Linked DNA regions of Homo sapiens: regions 1 and 3 are each linked to region 2. The links come from fine-mapping of genetic effects on gene expression. A gene starts in region 2. Each other region holds a variant in brackets. All regions are shown on one strand. Distances are between the middles of the regions.

Region 1 (7,165 bases), 79 kb after region 2:
GAGATATTTTGATACAGGCAGGCAATGCGTAATAATCCCATCAGGGTAAATGGAGTATCCATCCCCTCAAGCATTGATCCTTTGTGTTGCAACAATCCAATTATGCTCCCTTAGTTATTTTTTTAACGTACACTTAAATTACTGTAGTCACCCTTGTACTAGCAAACACTAGGTCTTATTTGTTCTATTTTTTTTTTGTACCCATTACCATCCCCACTCCATCCCCCACTACTGTTCCCAGCCTCTGGTAACCATCCTCCTGCTCTCCATCTCCATGAGTTCAGTTGTTTAAAGTTTAGCTCCCACAGATAAGTGAGAACATACGATGTTTGTCTTTCTGTGCCTGGCGTATGTCACTTAACACAGTGACCTCCAGTTCCATCCATGCTGTTGTAAATGACAGGATACCATTCTTTTTTATGGCCGAAGAGTACTCCATCGTGTATATATGGCAATTCCTTTATCCCCTTGTCTGCTGATGGACACTTAGGTTGCTTCCAAGTCTTGGCTGTTGTGAACAGTGCTGCAGCACACACGGGTGTGCAGTGATCTCTGATAGACTGATTTCCTTTCTTTTCTTTGGAGTATATATCTAGGCATGGATTGCTGCGTTGTATGGTAGCTCTATTTTTTGTTTTTTTGTAGAAACCTCAAACTGTTCTCCCTAGTGGTTGCACTGATGTACATTCCCACCAACTGTGGACAAGGGGTGAGGGAAGTTAATTTCATGGTAACACCAAGCCTTTCCTTTTTGTCAGTTTCTGTTCTTATGATCATTCATTAGAAGGCAGATTCACTGAAGAATGTCGTTTTACCTAGTTTAAACTGGCTAGATTCTTTTCAAGGTTACAATTTTGAACCCCACCTTGTCCCCTGAGTCATCGAGGTAGCCCAAGATAACGGTTAAGAGGAAACATCCTTTGTGTTGGCAGCAAATTGTTCTCCAGTTTCTGTTAAGTAGTGTCCCTTGCAGGTGAGGAGAGGCTGCTTTCATCCTCAGCAGGTAGAGACCGGGGAGTCGGACCAGCGGAAATCCTCACCTCCTGGGGTGGGCCGTGTGGGGAGTGTTAACTGGCAAGACGATCTAAATTCTCTACCCAGATCACAGCGGCTACAGCAGCTTTGCTTTCAGAGAAGAAAACACAAAAAAAAGTGCCCAAAAGTTAAAAAGCAAGTGGTAAAACCGGGAAGCGACACGTTGCACAAAACGTATTTGGTACGTTAAAAAGGCCAGAAGCACGGTGCCCTGTAGGAATGAGACTGACATCTTCACAAAAGGTCATCATCAGTCTCATGTGACATTCTCCATGCTTTTTTTTTAAAGACAGGGTCTCATTCTGTCACCCAGCCTGGAGTGCAGTGGTGCAGTCCCTGGTCACTGCAGCCTTGACCTCCCAGGCTCAGGTGATCCTCCCACCTCAGCCTCCCAGGTAGCTGGGACCACAGGCGCACACCACCATGCCCAGCTAATGTTTTGTATTTTTGTAGAGATGGGGTTTTGCCATGTTGCCCCAGCTGGTCTCTAACTCCTGGGCTCAAGTGACCCACCTGCCTCGGCCTCCCAAGGTGTTGGGATTACAGGCTTGAGCCACCGCTCAATCCCAGAAGTGTTGGGATTACAGGCTTGATGCTTTTCTTAAAAAACATATTCCCCATGTATGATGTCTGCAGATACTTCAAGAACATCATAAACACCACTTTCACCATCAGCTGGGAGCAGAGTCCCTCCCCATTCACTGTCGCCCCACGCCATAGGGACTTGGTGATGTTTACAGTGTGTCCCTGTGGGCGAACGGGATAAGGAAAAGATGGTGCACATACACTGTGGAATACTACGCAGCCGTAAAAAAAGAACCAAATCATGTTGTTTGCAGCAACATGGATACAGCTGGAGGCCATTATCCTAAGTGAATTAACACAGAAACAGAAAACCAAATAGTGAATGTTTTCACATGTAAGTAGAAGCTAAACATTGGATTCACATGGACAAAAAATAGACCAGAGACTACCAGTGGGGGGAGGGTGGGATGGGAGGAAGAGCTGAAAAATGATCTGTTGGGTCCCATGCTGACTACCTGGGTGATGGCTTCAATCGTACCCCAACCTCAGCATCACCCAGTATACCCAGGTAACCTGCACACATACCTCCTGAATCTAAAATAAAGTTGCAATTTAAAATAAATAAAATATCAAATGTTTTAATATTTTTTAAAAGTATGTGTGAACATCCCTTGACAAATTGTTTTCATCCAGAGAAATTTGCTGTACTGAGATTATATTATAACAAAGTCTTAGACAAAAATTGGTTCCCATGATTTTGTCCTTCTCATTTGGAATGATTGCAGATCCTGGCCAATTTGGAGCAAGGCTTAGCAGAAGACGGCGGCATGAGCAGCGTGACTCAGGAGGGCAGACAAGGTGGGTCGGCCGGACTTTGCTGACTAGATGCTTCTCGGACATCACTGACAGACTGAGCCCAAAGCCTCTCGCTTCCTCTCCTTCTCCTTTCCTTTCTGTAGTCAGCACTGCACGTGTCCACTCGTGCATTTGCAACTCACTCCTTTCTTGGGGAAGCCAAGCACATCACTGGGTGATGCTGTGGGTGCAACGTGCAGCCTCAGACCCGAACCCTGCGCCCGGGGAGAAGACACGCCTTCACCACAAAAGCACACGGCCCGGAACCTGCCACGCTGAGTGGTCTGAGTGGGCGCGAGGAAGGAGCCCAGCCCAGCCGAAGGGGCCCAGAGGGGCCTCTGCGTCGGGGAGAGAGGCCTCTGCGTCGGGGACAGAGGCCTCTGCGTCGGGGACAGAGGCTCGGGAGGGTGCTTCAGGAGGAGCTGGAGAGGAAGGCCCAGAGCCTGGGGCAGGCTGAGGGACCTGGGCAGTTCCCTGGAGCATTGGAAACCCCTTGGGGGACTGGGTGGGTTGACATGAGCTGATCTGCACAGTGAGGCCATGCCAGCTGCAGCTCGGGGAGTGCGTTAGCCAGGAGCAAGCTTCCGATCATGCTTGGAAACCTGGCCTGAGTGCTCCCTCCCAGGTAGCCCCACCCTAGCCTCACTCCCTCACTCCTTGTGGCAGCATCTCCCCACAGGCCTGGTGGCCTGGTCATCTCCTCCTTCCCACAGCTTCTGTCCTACTCGATGTGCAGCCCAAGTCAAGATCGGGTGGTCTCCGTTTCCGCAGGTGTGCTGGGGTTTCTGGGGAACTGCTGGCTGGTGTGAGCTGAACGTGTGTGAGGTGTGTATGTGTGTGGTGTGTGGATGTTGGGTGTGCATGCTGTGGCATGTGGTGTGGGTGTGGTGTGTGCATGTGTGTGCACTTGTGCACTCTCTTTTCAGTAATTTAATTGCAGGTAGAGTAACAAGGTCTGAAGGAGAGACGGCACTGTCTGCTCATGGATGTCCCATTCAGCATTCTTGGCAACCAGTCATTTTACCCCTGGTTGGGCTCCTGCTTTGGTGGGAATGAGCATGTAGTTATCAGAGAGCAGAAGGCTGTTCCTGGAAATCTAACAGAAGGTCACACCCATGAGCATTTATAAGGAGGGTAGGGGAGGATTTAGAGCAGGAAAGGAATCTGCAAAGATCATCAGAATAAATATGCAATTCATTGAGACAATCCATATTTTACATCCATTAAGAGAAGATATTCAGAATTTCTTTTCACAAAAATAATGGTATAAGGGGAACATAAGCAGCTAATGTGTTTTTCATTGCTGAAAGGCAAAGTGAGTTAAGTTTTTAATTCTAGCAATTAAGTTTCTGTGTGTTCTCCTGAAGCACACCGTAAATGCACATCATTTCTAGGTGATTGTTATCTCACAGTGGACGCTTGGTGCCAGCGGTGGGTCAGCTTCAGCCTCCTAAATCACAGCCTCAGAGGCAGCCAGGGACACACGGCTCCCAGTGCCCAGCGATGAGGGAGGCCAGGAGCACTCCCAGGGCCTGGTGCTGCCCAGGGTGGCATCTTGGCACTTTGCAGTTGGAAGTGTGGACTTTTCTTCGAGGAAGTAGACACAGCACAGGCGCAAGGAGCGCTGGACAAGGGGTCAGATGGAAGCGTCCCTGGCCTCTGTGGACCTCAGCCTGCCTGTCAATAATATGTTCATTTCAGATTAGCTCAGTCCTCAACCTGCGCCTTCCTCCTGGTCATCCCAATGATAAACAGGCACCATTGGTCAGCCCACCCTCCCCCCAGGGCAGCTCCCAGGGGACCTTTGCAGACCCCAAGAAGGCCACAAAGCCAGTTTGGAAACTACTAGAAGAGATGGGCCCTGAAGGTTTGAAATCAGTGGAGGGATGGCTGCTAACTAAATAATGTGCAGGGGAGAGCAGGGAGGGACGGGCC[A/G]GGCTCAGGGTCGCGGTCAGCCACCGTGTGGCAGCAGGTGCTAGGGAAGGAAGCCAGCTGCAGGGGAGTGCCGAGTCCCCAGCGGAATGTGCCAGCCACTTGAGTTCTGGAACACGGTGTAGCACTCCTTGGGGGAACCGGCGTCTGCACCAGCCCATGGTCGGGAGGCAGGGGAGGCCTCATGGCTGGGCATGGGTGGGGCCCTCCGGGTGGCCTCCCATAGGTCAACTGCGAGAGGCTGGCGGCCACCCTGGCCAGTGGCCCTCCCAGCCTTGTCGAGCTGCAGGCAATGTCGTCGTTTCTGTCAGCTTTGCTCCTTTTCTCAGGGTTCTGGCTTTGGAAACGGGGCCCCCGGTCGGACCATTTGGCCTTGTGTCTGGGCTGATGCTGAGCAGCCACCCTCCTGGTTCTCTGATGCCGAGGGTCTCTTCCCAAAGCCACCTCTGGTCCCAATGCGAGTGCTGTATTTTCTGCCTCAGTGCAGCCTGCAGCATATTCAGCATTCCAGGCCGAAATCCAGTGGTGTTAACAAGAGGGATCTTTTAAAGTTAAATTAGAATTCACAGGACCCAGTAATTGAGGGCTAGAAAGAGCCTCGAATTTATTTGTGCACTTACAGGCTGCTCTTACCTTGTAGCCTCTATCCGGCTGTGGAGGTCACGTCTGGGCCGGGTGATGTACTCCATGGCAAACTGTCTGCTCCTGATGAAGGTACGTGGGTGGCCAAGCAGGGCTGCCATGTGATCTGGAAGAGCGGGGTCAGTGGGAGCCGCGAGGGAGCCGCTGGTATAATAGATGCTGGCAGGGACCGGCCGTGCAGAGAAGCCAGCTAAGTACTGGCTTAACAGGGAGCCCAGTGACACATTATGGGGCTATATGTACTTTATTTCTACTGCAAGAAATTTCAACAGAATGTAGAATTTAGATGATCAGATTTCATTATTGAAATGTGGGTCTAAATGATTTAATTAAAAGTATTGTTCATTTTCCCCCATTTTTCTCTGAACTCCATCCCCAGAAGGTGTCCTTTGTTCTCCCTATCTTCGTGGAGGGTGTTTTTTTCACCTCATGGTTTTGATTTTATGATTGATGCTTACAACACCTGAAGACAGGCTTCCCCACAAGACCTTCTTAGGACGTCACCCCAGAGCTCTCAGCCCGCAGGGAAACAGCTTAGAAATCAAGGAGCTGAACTGAGGCTGTCATCTGTTTTTCCGTGTCTCCTGGCTCTCGCCAGCCTGTGCAACGGTGTTTTTTGGCTCCTCTCTTTGTTTGGAACGCACCCCACACCTGGCTCACCTCCCACACTGGGCATCAGGGTGCCCTGTGTGGAGCTAGTGTCCCTGCAGCCAGCTGTGCGTACTGAGAGCTACTGCAGGAATCAGCTAGCAGCAGGCGCTCCGGAGCAGTGCTCGTAACACCTCCTGGGCTGTTCGAAGACAGCGACCTTAACTCCCACACCCATGCGGCTTTCATGGGGCCAAGGTCATTCCTGAGCTTGATTTTCAGCAAGGCAGAGCAGGCAATTTACCAGCGGAGAACTGTGCTCACGGGCTCTGTCATGAACCCTGAAGTGGCAGCCCTGCTTTATGCACGGACCCTGCAGCATCCCCAGAGGTGACTGTGACCCCGGGCACTGCTCCGAGCAGGCTGGGTGCGGGTATAGATTCACAGCCATCAGTGGCTCAGGCATTCCATCAGGAAGACGTGCAGCCCGCACCCCGGCTTTAGCGCAGCCCCAGTGCCCAGTGCGGGGCCGCTGCCTTTGCGCTTCTGCGTCTACGTCAGGCTGGACGCACAAGGAGACTCGGCGTCCTGTTCATCCTCGGTAGCAAGCGACCGTGACGCAGCCTCGCACTACTGCAAGCCTCAGCCTCCTCCTTAAAATAAGGGCATAGATCTGAGATCTCTGAAATCCCTCCCAGCTCTGACATTCACACAGCTCTCTCCTCTCCTTCAACACACTGGATAAAGGAAATTACGGTTTTCAAGTTCTGTGGTTTTGCTCAGAGCAGGTTTTTCTTCCGCTGCCACTCCTGAGATAGTCCCACTGAGGTCAGGTGGCCCGCACAGGTGCTTTGTTCTGGTCCTCACCCTCCTCCCACCCGCCCCCTTCCCTTCTCCAGCCCCCTCTGGCTTCTGCAGCAGGGCTTGCCCACCTCTGAGTGGGAGTGAAAAGTAGGCCCTCCTGCTCCCCTGCCCTGGTGGCCTCTTCACCACCCAAGGCTTGGCCAGCAACCAGGTGACCCCGAAGCACCCGGCCTGACCCCTCTGCCTCCCAAAACAGGCCATTCTCCCTGTGCTGCCTGTGGCCAGCCCTGACACCCCCACCTGGCGGTCTGGGCGGTCCGCAGTAGGCCTCCACCTGCTGAGGGCATTGTCAGCGTCACCTGAAAGTCACCAGCTTGCCGGAACATTCTTATGCAAAGACATGAAGAATCAATTATAAATTCACAGGACTGACGTTTCACTAATCATGGGGCTAAAACTCCCCAGGGAGGAAAGTTCCCTGTTCCACTGGCGGGCTTTCATTTGCATTTTAAGACACATTAATAGAAAACGACGGAATGGGCTTTTCTTTGTGGCACTGTGGTAGTAACACCACCACCAGGCTCCGAATGTGAGTCTTCTTCCTGTATTGCTGGGACTCAGTACAGAACATATTATTGCATTTCAAAAATACTTTTACAATGGACATGATTTAATTTGAAAGTTCAGCTTAAGCTTTCATTTTCATGAGTTAAAAAAAGGAGGCAAAAATGTTGCAATTAAAGCCAAGCCAAGCATATGCACTCTCTTGCCATCTAGTGAGCAT
Region 2 (5,000 bases):
CACCAAAGTGAGTGATAACTTCCAGGTCAGAAGTCATGTTCGGGACAGGATGTGAAGGGGAAGGAGGCAGGCCGGCTGTGGCCAACCCTGTTATCCAGTACAACCGTTTAACCTCCTAAAGCCTCAGTTTACTTCTCTGCAAAATGGGAACTAGGGAACAGACACGGGTCCTTGCAGGGCTGGTGGGAGATCTGCAAACCGAAGTCACCATGGGACCGCGCATGCTATCAACAGCCAGGCCGAGCAGCACCTGCCGCCCTCCCAGTGACCCACCTGGAACTCCAGCCCGTAGATCACTGGTGCATCGTCCTCCATGCTGCGGGGAAGCGACCCGACCCCGGCCACTCACACGCTAAGGACCTCGCTACGGCCGGCGCGTCCCCACCTCGCGGGCGTGTTCCCAGCGCCCATTCATTCCCTCCCCGCAGCAAACGACTCCAAACTGGAAGTCTTTCTGGCCCAGAACAGCTTCCGTAGTGGCCACTTCCTATTTTTCGGATGTGTCATCAATCTGTTCCTCACCAGCGACCAATGGCAGCGGCGCTGGCTTGTGCGCATGGCCACTTGGGCTCACATCCGGGCTCTCAGCGCGGGGACTCCTGGAGGTGAGAACCCGGCCCAGAGGAAATAAGTTGGTGGGCGGAGCGGGCCGCGGAGGCCGGCTGTGGGTGGAGGCCGGCTCCGAGCGCAGGCCGTCGGGAGCAAGCGGCGATTAGCCTTAGCTAGCCATCGCATCTAAGAATCGCTCACGCCGTAGTTGGGCGCCGCCATGTATTGTCATTTGTATGTACTTGGCGTTCCTGAGCGCTGGGCCAGCGCTTCACACGCACTGCCATAAGGAGCTTCATCCAACCCTATGAATAAGCTGTTACACTTCCATTTTACCGATGAGACGCTGCAAAGTTGAGTAACACAGTCGCAGCGCTCATTGGTCCATTGGGTAGCCAGGATGGGCACCTGAGCTGACTCCCTTAGGTTCGGCCCAAGGTGCCCTAAGTCAGGGCCATGCCTAATGCATTTCTGCAGGTGCCCAGCACTGTGTGGCAAAGAAAGCACTACCAAGGATGGGGTTATGAAAGCCGGCACCGCACCACTGGTGGTCCTGGACTGCATATGCCTCCGAATGGGAGTCGGAAGGGAAGGCCCTGGGGTTCCTAGAGGTCTCCAAAGACTAAAGACTTGTGGTGGAGAGACTGCCCCTCTTTCGCATCCTGCTCAAAGTGCCTGCCCTGGCCTTGGGCCAGCAGAAATGGCATCGCAAGGACTCCAAAATACATCATAGCTGAACCACGCCGCTAGCCTGGTTCCACCGGGGCTTCCAGGACCACGCACCTTTCCTCCATTTCTGTGATTAGCTTTCCCCTCTACCCTTTATTGATCTCCGTGACGGAAATGGTTGGGTCTCGTTTTGCTCAGTTGGGCAAGGCGCGTGGTATTGAGTTAAGGCTGGATGAGTATCTGTTGAGTGTATGAAATTTTAGAGATTACATGAGAAATCAAATGAGCAGGCCGGGCGCGGTGGCTCACGCTTGTAACCCCAGCATTTTGGGAGGCTGAGGAGGGTGGATCACAAGGTCAGTTCGAGACCTGCCTGGCCAACACAGTGAAACCCCGTCTCTACTAAAAATACGAAACTTAGCCCAGCGTGGTGGCACGCGCCTGTAATCCCAGCTACTCGGGAGGCTGAGGCAGGAGAATCGCTTGAACCCGGGAGGCGGAGGTTGCAGTGAACCGAGATCGCGCCACTGCACTCCAGCCTGGGCGACAGAGCCAGAGTCGGTCAAAAAAAAAGAAAAGAAAAGAAAGAAATCAAGTAAGCAAAAACAAGAAAGAAAGAAATCAAGTAAGCAATGGCCCAGACATGAGAATCATCCTATTCAACCACTCTGTTTGCCGATATTAACTTGCGGAGCTAAGAGGGCCTTCATACTTCGGGATTAAACCCACCCATCTATCACTGATATCTTTATCATTAATTTTATTATACAAGTACTGCAGGTGCATGGTAAGAAACTTACAAAATACAGATAAACACAAAGACAAATCCATAGAAACACTGATTTCTAGGATATGCTGGTCAATAAAAATAGCCTAAGCGACTCCCTTTCACCCGCCCCATCTGCCACAGGCTTGCCTATTGCCTCTGAGTGACAGAATCAGGCTAGGTGGAGTGGAGTCTCCGTTCCCATTTCCAAGTACAGGGTCCGCTCCCCTCAACTACCGGCTCCTGGTTGCCTGTGCGCGTTCACACCTAGGGCTCCAGGCCCCGCCCACAGCAGACGAACCGGAAACGAACCCCATTTCCGGCCTGGGGGCAGGGCCTCGGGTTCCTGCATCGGGCCTGAGCAGAACTAGGCGCGCCGCGGCCCGGCACGCGCAGGCGTACAGAGCTCCCCGGGGGTGCCAGTTCCTCTCCGATTCCCGGCTTCTGTCACCTTCCTCACGGACCTTGGTCACGGCCGCAGGTGACCCCTTAGCCCAGCTCCAGTGGGCGGGTGGCAGGTGAGGATCAGGGCCTCGGCAGTCCAGAGGGGATGGGACCGTGTAGCGCCACCTCGGGGAGGGAGCACACTGGCTTTGGCCTCAGCCCGGAGGGACCTTCTCTGGGACCGATGCTAGAGTGGGCGTGGGGTCCGGGCGCGGGGTCGCCTGCCACCCAAGGGCGTGTGTGCTCCGCGGGCCTTGTGCCAGGCTCCACGTCGCCGCGGCCCTTGCTCTCCACGTCTGCAGAGGGCTGGAAGCGTCTCTGCAGCCCGCGGAGTTTGCGGGAAGGGGAAGCTGCTGCGAAGCGTGTGGGAAACTACCCGCTGGCGCGCGCCCAGGCGTCCCCGAGACCCCCAGTTCCAGGCTTGGTGCCAGCCAGGCCCCCAGCAAGCCCCTTAACTTCCCTTAGACTTAATTCACCCTCCCGCGGAAAGAGGTTACTAATGACCTGCCCTGCCAAACTCAGCATTGTGAGGCTGCAATGCAGTGTAAAAGCATTTGAGTCACTGTGTAAACGTCCGCTGTTGCTACACATACTAATTGTAGAGTATATTTACTGTGAAGACCGAAAAAGCGTTTATTCAACAGAAAGCGTTAGGGTCAAAGATGTGTTTTAACGTGTCATTTTTTCACTCTTCACTACGAAACAGTGTAGCCCCAAGGAAAAATTTTCTTGGACCTACGGTTTGTACTTTTTAATGGCTACTTGAAGATATGGTGTCTTTGGATTCAGTCACTGTTCGCAAATTCAGAAGATAGTGGCGGATAATGAGCCAGTCCCGTCTTGGGATTGGGGTGGGAGAGGGACAGGGGAAAAGCAAATGAAATATTACACAGTGTTACTCATTCAGTTCTTACATTTTGTGATATCTGATGGGATCTTCTTCACAGTTACTAAACTGGGTGTTGCCACTCTGCTTTATCATTAAAATGATAATTACTATGCTTGTGTCTGTGCAGCTCTTCACACTTTAAAAGATGCCTATGCAGGGGTGCCACTATTTAATCCTCTTTATTCTGATGTACCATCTAAAAGATCAAGATTTTCAGAGGTTACTTCACTTGGTCGGGAAGCTAAGACTCAACACAGTTATTGAGACACTGCCTTCAGAGCTCTTTCTGCCCACCCCTGCCTGGCAACCTTGCAAGAGGAGCTGAGAGGTGACCAGCACAAAGAAAAGAGTATTGGCAGAAAGCGCTGTGTGGGTAGCCTGTCACCATCAGGTACTGTCAGTGTGATGTTAGGCAAATCACTTGGCCTTCTCTGCTGTATGATGGAGGTAATAATAATGCTTCAAAAGTTTAGGATGAGTATTAAATAATAAGGTAAAATGCTTGATCTGTAGTGAGTGTTCATTACATGGAGACTTCTGTTAATACGTGCCACCTAGATTTCCACTACACACCCTCGTGCCCTTATGGAAGGAAATTTTACATGACTGCAATTTGGTAAAAGATATGTTTACAGAGTGTCTGTGTCCAGGAAATGAACCTGAGAAACCAAGTTTTAAATGTTGTTAGGAACTTTTTATTTCTCAAATACAGAATTACTTAAATTTAATATTTAAAAAAATTTTAAACAATTAATTAATCACATTCTTGTGCAAAGCCCTCAACTGGACAAGGAGAAAGTCAGATTTCTTTGCTGCACTGTGATGTAAAGCTTCTGTAAGCTTATGTAAGCTTAAAATCCTATTTATAGTTTAATAAAAATAAAGCCAATGATAGGAGGGAGTAAAGATTTCTATCACGTACAAATCAAGAACAGATACTTGTGTTTTTCCATTTTTAATTATGAACTATAAAGACTACCCGTAACACACATGTGAGATTTAAAGATCAAGTCAACCCAGTCTTCCATTACCAGCATAAGATGGGGACCATTTCCCAGTGCGTTGAAACTTCCGTGTGTCCCTCCCCAGTCAAGCTCTCCTGCCATCACCTTCCACCCCTCCCTCACTAAAGTGGCTGTTACTATATCCTGGCTTTTCTTTGTAGTTTGACCAAATATGTTTGTGTTCCTAACACAGAAAAAGTGTTTGGATTCAACACTTTTGTTTAATTTACATGTTTTTGAATATACAGAGTCATGCTGTTTATTTTTCTACTCATTCTTTGTGCAAAATTGTATTTGTGAGATCCAAACATAATTTATATGTTAGATATGGAAGAGTTCACTGATTTTCACCACTATTTTAATATTTTATGTCCTAGTATACCACAGTCTACTTATTTACTTATTATTGTGTCTACAGGCAGTGTTTATTTCCACTTTTTTTTTTTTTTTTTTTTTTTGAGATGGAGTCTTATTCTGCCGCCAGGCTGGAGTGCAGTGGCACGATCTTGGCTCACTGCAACCTCCGCCTCCTGGGTTCAAGTGATTCTGCTGCCTCAGCCTCCCAAGTAGCTGAGACTACAGGCGCCCGCCACCATGCCTGGCTAATTTTTTGTATTTTAATAGAGACAGCATTTCACTATGTTAGCCGGTATGGTCTTGATCTCCTGACCTCGTGGTC
Region 3 (7,165 bases), 64 kb after region 2:
TTCATGATCTTAGGGGGAAGTCACTGAGTTTCTCACTCTTAAGTTTGTTGTTAGCTGCAGTTGTTTTGTAGATGTCCTTTATTAAGTTGAGGAAGTTTCCCTCTATTCCTAGTTGGCTGAGAGTTTTTATCACGAGCTGGTGCTGGATTTTGTTAAATGCTTTTCTACATCTATTGATATGATTTTTGTTCTTTAGCCTGTTTGATGTGGTAGATTATGTTAATTGATTTTGGAATGTTAGATCACCCCTGCATACCTGGAATAAATTCTGTCTGGTCATGGTTCATAATTCTTTTTATACATTGTTGGATTTGGTTGCTAATTTTTTGTTGACTTCAGTTTTCTTAGATTTAGTTTGCTAATTTTGTTGAAGATTTTTGCATTTATGTTCATGAGACATATTGGTCTACAGTTTTTTTTTCTTGTAACGTCTTTGTCTGGTTTTGGTATTAGGGTAATGCCAGACTCATATAAGAAGTTAGAAAGCGTTCCTCTGCTTCTGTTTTCTGAAAGAGATTGTAGAGAACTGGTAGCATTTCTTCCATAAATGTTAGGTGGAATTCACAGTGAGACCATCTGGGTCTGGGGCTTGCTTTTTGGAAAGGTTTTTCTTTTTCTATCCAAGTTACCAAATGTATGGACATAGAGCTGTTCATAATATTCCTTTACTATTCTTTTACTGTTCATAGGATCCATAGTAATAGTCCTTCACTTCTAGTACTAGTTGTTTATGTCTTCTCTGTTTTTTGACTAGCCTGGGGAGAGACTTATTGGTCTTGTCAGAGTTTTATTGGTCTTGTCAAAGAATATGTTTTTGGTTTGGTTGATTTTGTCTATTGATTTCCTGTTTTCAGTTTCACTGATTTCTGCTCTAATTTTTATTATTATATTTTTATTATTTTCTTATTATAATACAATAATATTTTTATTATTTTCTTATAATAAAATATTTTATTTTCTTATAATAAAATAATATTTTTATTATTTTCTTCTCTACTGCTTACTTTAGGCTTATATTGCTCTTTCTTTCCTTCTAGTTTTCAAAGGTGAAGCTGGTTTCAGATCTTTCTTTTCCAATATATGCATTTAATGCTAAAAAGCTTCCTCTCAGCACTGCTTTTGCTGCATCCCACAAATTTTGATAAGTTGTATTTTTATTTTCACTTAGTTCAAAATATTTTCACATGTGCTTTTACATCCAGAAGCACCCCCATGTCCATGGGCAGTTGTCAGGATAAGGGGCAGCTAACTTTCTGCCACCTTCTCAGGTGAAGTGGCAGGAGTCACACAGCCTGTTTTCTCACCATCCACCAAACTGTATTCCAGATCGGAGTATTAACAGCTAGTCTATAAATTGAGATCGGAGTATTAACAGCTAGTCTGTACGTTGAGATCGGAGTATTAACAGCTAGTCTGTACGTTGAGATCGGAGTATTAACAGCTAGTCTGTAAACTGAGATCGGAGTATTAACAGCTAGTCCCAAGTTGGGTTTGAGAACTTCCAGTAGAGGTTTGTTTCTGTGCTTATCTTATAGAGCTTGAAGGGTTCTTGAGATATTCTCTCCCTTGTGGTAAGTGATAAACCACACAGGAGTGATTCTGGCCCCTTCTCTACTTGAGACAGAAGGATGGAAGTGACGTGGCTTACATATAACTTACCATGTTGGGCCGGTTCCACAGTGACATGACTTACATATGACTTAATTGTAGGCCAGTCCCCTGTGTCATTATGCGGATGGTCTAGAAATGTTTATTTCTAGAAAACCGAAGTGACTCAGGCTGTAACTTAAGCTCGGCCAGATATTCTCTTGAGATACAGAAATTATTTAGTGGCATCAAAAAAGAAAGTTTAAACATTTTAAGTTCAATAATTGTTACCTTTCTTTTCTCCAGGCTTATAATCACAATAGAACTGTTTTCCATAGTGTTCCTTAATTTTGACTGTCTTCTTTTTGGACCTTTGTTATTAAAGACCATAAACATAAAGCTCATTTCAGTGTGGTCACGGCCCATTCTCAGTAATGGTTAATGAATAGACAGATGGATGCATTGAGGCACAGATACATTAAGTGGCTTGCAGAAGTCATACGCGTGTTTTCTCACCATCTTTCAGACTATATTCCAGATCCGAATATTCATCGCTTAGGCCTATTTTGAAAAGCACTTTACTGAATCTATGTGATTGCCCTCTGGCATTTCTCTATTCTTTATCTCATTTATAATCAGTGCACGCTATTTGATTTTTTGATGATTGTTATCTACTTAGTATACATACTACAGATCAAATTCCAAATCCTATTAGAAGAGAACACAATATTAACAAAAAGTTGACCTTACCCTGAGAGATGATGCAGCCACAGGTGATACGATATAAAGGGGGTTTCTCCTGAGCTTCTTCCTCTTCTTAGCGCACGCAAAGCCAGGCAGCTCTGGGTGATGGATTTTTCAAGTCCAGCTCCCTTGCCTCCTGTCAGAGGTGGAACGCAGGCTCCAGGGCCACATGGAATCCAGTGGGAGGCCCATCCCCAGGGCCGAGGCCTGAGACGCACCTGTGCTCAGTTTCGCCTCCTCCCCACTGGTTTTCCCGGGAGCACTTCCGGAACCACTGGCTGGCTTACGGCTTCTCCCTTCAGGGTCTCCTTCTGGGGAACCCAAGCTAAGCAACCTACCATTCGAGCTTGCTAAACTAAAGAAATATTAAAGAATATCTGAGCATTCTGGTTTTTCTTTTATTGGAGGAGGGGTTGGCGGTCTCTACTGTTTCATTCATTTTGGGATCATTTCTAAATGATTGCAGTGTAGCTTTGGAAATTGTGGTGTCATCCACCTGTCTCCTCTGATAATTGTCGAGACATACATACATAGAGCTCCATAGAGAAAACCAGCATGTATTTTATAGTTGACACCGTTAAATACTTCACAAGAAATAAAGGGATCTGTCATCACTTCTGCTGGGACATCTGCGACGCCTCCTTCAAGTGTGCCAAGTATGAATGCGTGCTCAGTTATGGCAAACAAACTCACTCAGCACTGATTGGATTCCAGGCTCCATGGTCCCCTTCTCGATGCGCATCTTGCACGCGGAGCTTCAGCAGTACCTGGGGAACCCACAGGAGTCGCTGGATAGACTGCACAAGGTGAAGACTGTCTGCAGCAAGGTAGGTGGCGCTGTCATTCTTCCCTGCCACGGGGAGAACATGCCCTCCACGCCCTCCCCACAGGACATGCCCGTGCTGTTCCCTGCCCGTCCTGCCCCATGCACCATCGCTGCTTCTGCCTTCAGAAGGCTAGGTGACCCGGTTTGTGTGGCCTGGTAGTCGTGTCTCTTGCTGAAATCTTTTTTAGG[G/T]ATGGTAAGAGTTTCTAGCAGAGCTTGAGTCCTGTAATTCTTACTGCCTGGTACTATGGGAAGCTGAAAGGCAGAGACATCTTTCTTGCCAAGGCTGCCAGCTGAAGCTTCAAGGTCAGTGTGCCAGACCACCCCTGTGTCCCACAAGTGCCCACACGCACCTGCCACGTGCAGACAGAGGTACCGGAGCAGTACTGAAAGCAATCATGGTTTAAGCTTTCAAATCCAAGTAAGTGCTTCTGCATTATGGCAACTGTCACTCATGATCCTGACTGCAAAGGCAGAGTCGGAGTGTTTTCGGACTCATTCTTGGTTGTGAAGTCACAGTTAATGTGGGAGCCACCAAAGTGGCACGTTATTACACTAACTGACATTGGGAAGAAATGTGGGACTCAGAGACTTTGCTGTCTACAGGTTGTTATAGAGTATTCATCTCAGATTAGGAATGATCCTGCCTTTCTACCCACGTCACAGTGTTCCTGTATAGGTTCAGTGACATAAGGTATGCGGAAGTACTTTGAAAACTACAACAACAAGCAGTTATTAGGAGCAGCAGCATATTATAATTTTTGGGAAAACTAAGATTCTTCTTGTCAGATTCCTCCTTTCACTTCCTAACTGTTGTGGTAGAAGTTTTGCGGAGTTCCAAGATGATGGTGTTAACAGTGTTCCTAGTAAGGAAGGAAGGGGCCCTCTTTATCCTTATCTGTGGAGAAAAAACAGGCGTTTCTAGGCCCCTTGTTGTCCTGGGCTTTGTACCCACTTCCATTTTTTTATTACCATAACTTAAAAGATAAAAAGAAAAATTGTTTGCTTTCTGTACTATATCAGTTGATGGAGAATCATGTTACCAACTTTTTTACATTTCAACACTTTTCTTGAATCTTAAAACGGGGTTTAATTTTATTTACAGAAATCGGAAGCACATAACTTGAAATTGAGAAGTTCTAAATCAGTGACTTTCTAAACTATACGAATTTTTCATTATCCTCCATGTCACATTGTAGGAAATCTTTATAGTATTTGAGAGAGAAAATTCTGGGCCATAGGGTGATTTGTGGATGGAAAAGCCAAGTTAGTTGAAGTAGTTTTGCAAGTCAGCTTTCCTGGTCCTGTTATGTCCTATTTCAGAATTATGCTCCTTAAATGCATACTACAGGCTGGGTACAGGGGCTCATGCCTGTAATCCCAGCTACTTGGGAGGCTGAGGCATGAGAATCGCTTGAACCCAGGAGGCTGAGGTTGCAGTAAGCCGAGATCAAGCCACTGCACTCCAGTCTGGGCAACAGAGCAAGACTCTGTCTCAAAAAAAAAGAAAAACTGCATACTACAGTGTAACGATGAGAGGAGCCACTTAGCACTAGCTATGAAGCAGCAGGGACGGTGGAGCAGAGAGCAGGAGCTTCCCACACCGCTGCTCTGGGCACCTGCACTTACTCCACCTGACAGACACCTTTGTTGCATTCATTATGAGGCAGCCACTGCTCTGAGTTCCAATATTAACTCATTTAATCCTTATCACAACCCTATGAAGGAGATGTTATTATCCCAATTTACAGATGGGGAAACTGAGGCACAGATAGGTTAGGTAACTTAGGATCACATGAGTTGAACCCAAGTCATCTGGCTCTAAAGTCCATGCTCTTCATCACTTGCCTGGCTTCATCACTATAACATGTCCCGTTTGAAGACAGAAGGACCGAGAGTCCTCTCTTCCACCCTGCACCAGCATTTCTGCTCCAAGAAAGGACAGTGCTGTCCGGGGTCAACTGACATCTGCTCAGAAGACCCCTGTGCTGAATGGGGCCCTGCCCCTTCCCCCTGACTGATGCCTGGAGATGGGCTCGAGCCTGTGCTCTGCTGGGCTGGGCCCTCCTGAGACTCTTGAGGGGGCTTCCAAGCAACAGCAGTTGACAGCTAAGCATCGTAGGGTTGGGGAGAAACGAGAAGGGTTAGTGCAGTCACATCCTAGGAACGTTTCTCTCAGGCTGACTGGGCGTGGGGCCACCGTCAGTGAGAGAGCCACTCATGCTTCTCGTTCCCTCCGCTGGTCTACAGTTCCACCTGCCTCTCATCTTGTGAATACATAACCGCACTTCAGGTATCTCTCATGTTTAAAGATACATATCTTTTCCATGGCATGATCCAAATCTAAGCCAACACTCCTTATGGTACTTAAATGAGGAAATCGCAATTCGTTCTAATCCTGGAAGAAAAACAAGCAGTTGGATTTATGAAAAGGTGTGTGTTGGTCTTCACCTTAAAGGATTTTCACCGTTAATTTCAATATGTAATTACTATGTGTTCCTTTATGTGCTGACTTAAAATTTGACACCCTCTTGAGAGAGAGAGCTGCACTGTGGCACAGCTGGTGGATGCCTGGACCAAGAGGGAAAGACCCAGGGCATGACCATATAGTCAGCCTTGCCTGTCCGCCACCTTTGGCAGGAGAAGAAGCACCGTCGCCAACTTCCTCGCTCACTTCCTTGCACGTTAGGGGCTCATGGCCGCATGTGGGCATTCTTGACCTTTCTGCGGCTGGTTCAGTGTTGAACTGAAGCAGTTTTTATCTGGATGTGAACAGTGGGCACTGCGGGGACATGGAGCAATGCGTCTCCACGCTGTCCAGAACAGCTCTATCTGAGCTTGTTCATTTGTTCATGCAGCAAATGCCCTTTCAGCACCTACTGAGTACTGCACACTGGCAGTTCGGGACTCAACAGAACGCAGCCTCGCCCTCAGTGAGTTTACAGTTTGGTAGACGATGCTTGTTTCACCTGTTCCTTTTAGGTTTGCAGCCATCACCAATACATCATGATCCTCCAGAATTTAAAAAGGGACAGTTTGTGTTCATGCTAGAATTTCTTTACTCAAGAAGTGTGTATTAGTCCATCTGGCTTTGCCATAAAGGAATACCCGAGGGTGAGTCATTTATAAAGAAAAGGTTTATTTTGGCTCACAGTCCTGCAGGCTGTACAAGAAGCACAGTGTCAGCATCTGCTTCCAGTGAGGCCTCAGGAAGCTTTTTTTTTTTTTCTTGAAGCGGAGTCTCGTTCTGTCACCCAGGCTGGAGTGCAGTGGCGCTATTGGCTCACTGCAACCTCCACCTCCCAGGTTCAAGCGATTCTCCTGCCTTGCCTCCTGAGTAGCTAGGATTACAGGCGCCCATCACCACACCTGGCTAATTTTTCTATTTTTAGTAGAGACAGGGCTTCACCATGGTGGCCAGGCTAGCCTCAAACTCCTGACCTCAAATGATCCACCCGCCTTGGCCTCCCACAGTACTGGGATTACAGGCATGAGCCACTGCGCCTGGCCAGGAAGCTTTTAATCATAGTAGAAAGCAAAGGGGAAGCAAGTGTGTCACATGGTGAGAAAGACAGCGAGAGAGAAGAGGAGGAGGAGGGAGGCACCAGACTTTTTTTGACAATCAGATCCCAAGGTAACTAACAGAGCCAGAACTCATTCATTGCCATAGGGACGGTACCAAGCCACCCATGAGGGATCCACCCCCAGGACACAAACACCCCCCACCAGGCCCCACCTCCAACACTGGAGCTCACATTTCAACATGAGATTTGGAGGGGATGAATGTCCAAACTATATCATAGTGCAAAATCTAAAAATACTAAAAGCCAGCCCACCACTATTCTGCCGGTGTTGATTTGCTGGATTAAAGTGAACGGCTTGGTGTGGCCTTTGATCCCCTCTGCTCTCCACTGGTGAGTAAAGAGAGAGGTCAGACCAGAGACTCCAGGGTTCTCCAGCATGACATTCTGATTTTCCCAGACCTTCACAACTCCAGGAAATCCTCAGGAA

What was found. PIP is the estimated chance that this variant, and not a neighbour inherited with it, causes the effect.
Region 1: its variant is fine-mapped to the expression of TRAPPC12 in whole blood (TOPMed, PIP 0.92).
Region 3: its variant is fine-mapped to the expression of TRAPPC12 in whole blood (TOPMed, PIP above 0.99).

What each region holds. Positions count from the first base shown.
Region 1 is chr2:3,455,276-3,462,440 of GRCh38, forward strand. TRAPPC12 (trafficking protein particle complex subunit 12) reads left to right here. Exons shown (of 12, transcript NM_016030.6): 7 at 2,346-2,418; 8 at 4,988-5,061. Among named protein-coding and RNA genes, the nearest start is that of TRAPPC12-AS1, 24 kb to the right of the region's middle. RefSeq lists enhancers at 4,547-5,060, 5,413-6,280. The variant A/G (reference allele first, on the strand shown) is at 4,351.
Region 2 is chr2:3,377,375-3,382,374 of GRCh38, forward strand. TRAPPC12 (trafficking protein particle complex subunit 12) reads left to right here and starts at 2,320. Exons shown (of 12, transcript NM_016030.6): 1 at 2,320-2,502. EIPR1 (EARP complex and GARP complex interacting protein 1) reads right to left here and starts at 444. Exons shown (of 9, transcript NM_003310.5): 1 at 274-444. The coding sequence starts at 315. RefSeq lists enhancers at 1-227, 248-427, 448-497, 769-1,285, 1,286-1,802 and silencers at 668-727, 2,291-2,340.
Region 3 is chr2:3,440,734-3,447,898 of GRCh38, forward strand. It overlaps TRAPPC12 (trafficking protein particle complex subunit 12), which reads left to right. Exons shown (of 12, transcript NM_016030.6): 6 at 3,046-3,158. Among named protein-coding and RNA genes, the nearest start is that of TRAPPC12-AS1, 39 kb to the right of the region's middle. The variant G/T (reference allele first, on the strand shown) is at 3,347.